Homo sapiens: one gene and its partner. The protein of the gene in region 2 interacts with the protein of the main gene of each other region in a biochemical or structural test. Each region holds a gene or a part of one and is shown on either strand. Other genes may lie near its edges.

The links.
Region 1: the proteins of CDC42EP3 (region 2) and MFHAS1 form a complex in vitro, tested with the Homo sapiens proteins (one large-scale study listed by BioGRID and IntAct).

What each region holds. Positions count from the first base shown.
Region 1 is NC_000008.11:8,883,622-8,887,140, reverse strand, and holds part of MFHAS1 (malignant fibrous histiocytoma-amplified sequence 1), read left to right. Parts: intron 1-3,519. UniProt on the Homo sapiens protein: Probable GTP-binding protein. Functions in innate immunity and more specifically the inflammatory response as a regulator of the Toll-like receptor TLR2 and TLR4 signaling pathways.
Region 2 is NC_000002.12:37,644,525-37,647,642, reverse strand, and holds part of CDC42EP3 (cdc42 effector protein 3), read left to right. Parts: exon of another isoform or gene 1-249; intron 250-820; 5' UTR 821-1,055; coding exon 1,056-1,820; 3' UTR 1,821-3,118.

The sequences.
Region 1 (3,519 bases), on a different chromosome or scaffold from region 2:
GTTTGTTTGTTTTTGAGATGGAGTCTTGCTCTGTTGCCCAGGCTGGAGTGCAGTGGAGTGATCTTGACTCACTGCAACCTCTGCCTCCTGGATTCAAGCGATTCTCCTGCCTCAGCCTCCCAAGTAGCTGGAATTAGAGGCATGCGCCACCACACCTGGCTAATTTTTGTATTTTTAGTAGAGGCGGGGGTTTCGCCAGGTTGGCCAGGCTGGTCTTGAACTCCTGACCTCAGATGATCCACCCACCTCAGTCTCGCAAAGTGCTGGGATTATAAGCGTGAGCCACTAGGCTTGGCCACCTTTGTCTTTTTAAGAAGTCATTTTGCTTCTGGGGACATTAAAAATTGTTTACTTTTATGTTTTATAAAAGCGTTAAGTTGTCCTATAAACTATAACAATTTTATATGCAACGCTGAAAAAGTTGGACTTTGAATTTTCTTAACTTTGGGATGTTACAGTAAAAGTAAATAGTAAATTACTGTCTCTCTTGATTTTATACAGAAAAAATGTATAAAGTTGCACTAATATCTTTTAAAGTATTTTTATGTGAAAAGCCTATTTTGGCCTTGTCCTGTTGGATTTTCTGGCCTGAGCTGCCCTACTGTAGTTGACCACGGGAAGTATAATGGTAAATTTCTCTTTTCTTATTTTGGTTTATACAAGAAAAGTAATGGGCAGCGTGCAGTGGCTCAGGGCTGTAATCCCTTTGCTTTGGGAGGCTGAGGCAGGAGGATCACTTGGGTCAAGGAGTTCGAGACCAGCCTGAGTAATGTAGCCAGACTCCGTGTCTACAAAAAAAAATAAAAAATAAAAATCAGCTAAGCGTGCACACTTGTGGTCCCAGCTAGTTGGGGGGCTGAGGTGGGACAATCACTTGAGCATGGGAGTTTGAGGTTGCAGTGAACTATGATTGTGCCATTGCACTCTGACCCTGTCTCTTAAAAAAAAAAAAAGAAATGATTGGAAAATGCACATCCAGCAATCACTAGTTTCATAGTTTTTTGTAAAAATAAATCACATTGTCAGAGAGAAGACCTATTTGTCTTATTTAAAATAGGTAATCTGACAACGTGATTATCTTTTTAAGACATCTTATTTAAGACAAATGGGTTGAGTGACAGGAGATTCTTTTGGAAACTCGGAGATGGCCTATGATGAAGCCTAAATGTCACTGTGAAAGTCTTGACCTGCTTTCTCCATCCTGGCCAACATCCTAGCCTGGTCAACCTGGTGAAACCCCATCTCTACAAAAAATACAAAAAAATTAGCTGGGCATGGTGGCTCATGCCTGTAATCCCAGCTCCTGGGAAGAATGAGGCACGAGAATCCCTTGAACTTGGGAGGCGGAGGTTGCAGTGAGCTGAGATTGTGCCACTGCGCTCCAGCCTGGGCGACAGGGCAAGACCCTGGCTCCGAAAAGAAAGTCTTTACCTGCTTCCTGCAGGTACCCTTTCTTTTTTGCAGACTTGCTGCCCATAGCTGGTAGCCAGGATTCCCTTCCTTTTGCTGTTTTCCTTCTCATTGGTTGGTCCTGTATACTTGTCTTAGAGCAAGTTTCTTCTTGTGGGATATTTGTTTATGCTTTTATTCTGTTCTACCAGTATGACCTCTAAACTCAAAGAGTTGGTACTCTTGAAGTTGAGTGAGGGTACATTAAGATGTGGTGGTTAGGACACGGGCCTGCAGCAAGATTCAAGTGCTTTGATATTCCTTTTAAGCAGATGAGTGAATACTGTGTTTTTGAATTGGAAGAGTGTGTCTTAGTGAGTTAAACTTGCATTGACTGCAGATTTTCACTAAATATCCTACTCTCCAAATTATTTAAGGTCATTTTAAAAAATAAGGAGAAAGCAACCCAAATCAGTAGACAGAATGAGTTATGTGGCTTTCTTTAGCTTTACTGTCTTTCATTTACTCAGTAACTTGATGCCTTTTTGTATCTCATGCCAAATGTCTTCTGTCCCTCAGTTTCTTGCACACGGAGTGTACCTCTCCGACAACACAGCATATTTGACTTGTTTTGTTGGTGTTTGGTTGCGTCATGATATATCTTTGATTAGGTTGTTCACTTGCTGCTTCTGAGCCAGAGACACACCCGAGACTTAGTAGCTTCTGCAGAGCCTCTCAGATGTTTGCTGAATGATAGTTTGGTCTTTTTGTGAGAAATAACTTTTTTTTTGGGGGGGTGGGGGCAGGGTCTCACTCTGTCACCGAGGTTGGAATGCATTGGGGCAATAATGGCTTACTGCAGCCTCGACCTCTTGGGCTCAGGTGATGATCCTCCTACTTCAGCCTCCTGAGTAGCTGGGACTCCAGAAACACCCTACCATGCCTGGCTAATTTTTGTGTTGTTTTGTAGAGACAGGGTTTCGCTGTGTTGCTCAGGCTGGTCTCAAAGTCTGCCTGCCTCAGCCTTCCAAAGTGCTGGGATTATAGGCTTGAGCCACCATGCCCTGCCTGAGAACTATCTCTTTTTCTTTGTTATTCACACACTCAGTGAAAATCCCAGGTAGTATTGTAATGATTATCTGGCTTTGTTTAGCTTCCCAACTCCCTCCCCCTCACAGTGTTCCTCCAGCATTCCCATTGTGCGTCTATGACTGGTCTTACCCTTGAATGGGTCCTTCATTTTGACCACTGAAGCAAAGCAAAATTCTTGCCTTATTATATCTAAGTTTTAGAATTACTGGAATTTGAGCATGACCTAGTTGTTTGGATTGAATTAGTCATTGTTTTTAATTTTACAAAGGTTTTTCAATATCTCTTTGGTTAAGCTTTATTAATATTGATGCTTCTTGGCTTTTCTTTTTATGAATAGGCCTCTGAACTCCCTGGGACTTTGTTTTATGTAAAAATCAAAACCTTAATCAGGCACTAGGATAAACAAATACTGTGCAGAATAGAGTTCTAGAAGGCTAGAAAGGCCTTTGGAGTATTTGAATTATTTTAAATATTAGGTGCCTCTTCTTTAAACCCTGGAATAGACTCTTAAGTCCATCTCTGCACAAGTAGTTTAGAATTTCCTAAAGTATTTTTTCTTTAATTTTTTTTTTCTTTTTGTGTGTGTGTGTGTGTGTGTGTGTGTGTGTGTGTGTGTGTTTGTGAAATAGAGATAGGGCCTTTTTATGTTGCCCAAGCTGGTCTTGATCTCCTGGCCTCAAATGGTCCTCCCCACTCAGCCTCCCAAAATGTTGGGATTAGAGGCGTGAGCCACCATACCCAACCAGTATTTTTTATTTAGTGGATATTTTATGTCATACTCTGAGGTTATTCCCCTTTGTCCGTGAAGAGGTGAGGGGCTTTAACTCTGTATTATAGGAGGGGAATGAGTGGGGAAAGGAGGAATTGGACATTTCTGTTTTTCTTCTCATCTACCTATTAACTTGCTTCTATCCATGGGAGCCCTTTCTTTTTTTTTTTTTTTTTTTTTTTTGAGACTGAGTCTCGCTCTGTTGCCCAGGCTGGAGTGTAGTGGCGCTGTCTGAGCTCATTGCAACCTCCACCTCCTGGGTTCAAGTG
Region 2 (3,118 bases):
CCCTTCGAATTCTGCCTACTGCATGGAGGATATAGCCTTATCAGTAATGTTTCAGAAGTGTTCCCAAGTGAAGGCCCAGCCTGTAATAGAGATTCACAATGTTTTCTCTTTGAAGTGAAGCAGTTTTGTTCATTTCCTCCCATCTCAGAATGACTTCAAATCCTGACATCCTCGACAGCCCAATACTTTGCCACAACCTGATTACAACTCTAGCTCTCTTATTTACTGGCTATATGTTATTGAGAAAAGGTAACTTTCTAGGGGAAGGGCTTATCCTGAATCTCCGTTTTCTTATCTGTAAGAATGTATTCCACTAACATTTTTAGGACAGTAGCATATAATAGTTATTGTCACTTATTAAATAATTCCAGCACCTTTCCTTTAGGACTGTTCATTTTATTGCATTAACTTATGTACATATGGAACTCAACAATGAAATATTAGTGTTGCTAGTATGCACATCAAAGCAAAAGGAAAATGTATTTTAAAACAAATCCAGTTGTATTTAAGGAGCTGAAATCACTGATCCTATGCTTACAGCAATTCTTAGAGGAAAATGACTAAAACCATAGACATGTCCAGAAGATGTGCCCATGGCTATGTCTAAAAAGTACTGGTGTCATAGATATGGGGTTTTTAGGTCTTTCTCTTTCCTGTTTTCTCTAAGATGAAAATTTTTATCCACTTACTGGAGGGAAACAATAAGTTCAGCATTAGTTGAAACTGGCCCTGCCATTATTTACAGGCTCTTGTGAAAAGGGAGGCCCTAGGGCACCCAAAAGGGTCTTTAGCTTATAACCTGCTTTGGTTTCTTCTGCAGGTTTGTCCTGGTTGTGGTCAAGACTGGATGATGTAACTGGCTCTCTAGGAAGCCTCACTTGGCCGTAACCTCAGGAAGGTTCTCTTTGACCCCATCTCATTTCGAAGCCACTTCTGAAGCCACTTGAGAAAAATGATGTGACAGTTCCTATCAAAAAGGATTCAGAAACATATACCATCTGTGAAGAAAGTGGCCCTTTCTCCCGCTTGCAAAATAGACATTCTCAAATTCCAAAATGCCAGCCAAGACCCCAATTTACCTGAAAGCAGCCAATAACAAGAAAGGAAAGAAATTTAAACTGAGGGACATTCTGTCTCCTGATATGATCAGTCCCCCGCTTGGAGACTTTCGCCACACCATCCACATTGGCAAAGAGGGCCAGCACGATGTCTTTGGAGATATTTCCTTTCTTCAAGGGAACTACGAGCTTTTACCTGGAAACCAGGAGAAAGCACACCTGGGCCAGTTCCCTGGGCATAATGAGTTCTTCCGGGCCAACAGCACCTCGGACTCTGTGTTCACAGAAACGCCCTCCCCGGTGCTCAAAAATGCCATCTCCCTCCCGACCATTGGAGGATCCCAAGCTCTCATGTTGCCCTTATTGTCACCAGTGACATTTAATTCCAAACAGGAGTCCTTCGGGCCAGCAAAGCTGCCCAGGCTTAGCTGCGAGCCCGTCATGGAGGAAAAAGCTCAGGAGAAAAGCAGTCTGTTGGAGAATGGGACAGTCCACCAGGGAGACACCTCGTGGGGCTCCAGCGGTTCTGCATCTCAGTCCAGCCAAGGCAGAGACAGCCACTCCTCCAGCCTGTCCGAACAGTACCCCGACTGGCCAGCCGAGGACATGTTTGACCATCCCACCCCATGCGAGCTCATCAAGGGAAAGACTAAGTCAGAGGAGTCCCTCTCTGACCTTACAGGTTCCCTCCTCTCCCTGCAGCTTGATCTTGGGCCCTCACTTTTGGATGAGGTGCTGAATGTAATGGATAAAAATAAGTAACAAGATGCCAACTTTTTTCCTTTGGGGTAAAAGGTACAAAAACAAACTAACCACAGTTGAAGAGAAGGGCTTCCGGAGCTGTATTTGCAGTTTTGTGTTGGGTTTTCTAAAATAATATTCTTACAAAGTATTTTTTTACCTGTTATGCCCTGTTTGCAAAAACAATTTAGAAAAAAACAACAAAGCAAAACCTATCTTGGCAAAAAAAGGAAGTGAGTCAGAGCCCATTTTCAGGAGGCATTGGTGATGTTCGGCTCACATATTGTTTGCAGACACACAAGAAATCTGGCTTGGCCAGGATTGGCACTAGCTATGAAGGGCTGAGCGAGTCACATTAAGGAACTTCACGGAACTTTATAGCACTCCGACATTTTCTGAGCAAGAGGAAGTCAAAATTTATTTAACACCTAAGCCTTTTTGTAGACTCTTTTCTATATATTGCTTAGGCTCACCATAGCGAATTCTCCAGTGTTAAAACTTTTCTGTTTTCACATTTGAACTTTATGGGTTTTGGGGATTTTCTTGTAGTTCTTATATATCCCTATATATTATATCTATATTGCAAAATTTTGACTGTCAGCTACATGTTGGTAAGACACAGGCAAAGTATTACTGTAACTAAGTTATTTTTAAAGTTAAAATATATTTTTACGTGCCTTTGGCTTTTTATTGCAGAGTCTACATTTTATAGATTCTACATCAGATGTTGTCACTTATTTCCATTGGGATTCCATTGTAAGCTGTGTATGTGCGTGTTTGGAAAAGTGTATTCATACTTAGTTTTTTTTTCTTCATCTGTTATCATACTTTTAACAGCAACCAATAACGGATTGTAAAGTGTAAAGGCACAGGTTACTCATGATGCTTCTGCAGAGACTGTGGGCTACACCACATATGTTATTTGGAAATATAGGTATTTTAGTACAGTACATACTTGCATTACATAGGTACTTCAAGCAACACAATAAAAAGTAAATGATAAAGTGAACTTGCTTGTTTATAGTAATAAACAAGACCATAAGAGAATAAGTATAGCTAGAGAAATTGCTTCTCTGAAATGTACATGAGCCCTTAAGGTAAGAGATGATTTCCATCTACTCTCATTTTGATTACTTCCTTATGGTTTGAGAGGCTAGAAACTGAGCCTCTCTACTTTTGGAAAAATGAACATGTGAGGTCAGATTTTTTTTTTTTTTTTTAAGTCAGCACTGATGCCACCCTCTCAGTGGTCATTTCTGAGCATCTTCCTGACTTGAACACCTTCTACAGCAAACTCTTGCAAGTCCAGTTTCATCCCT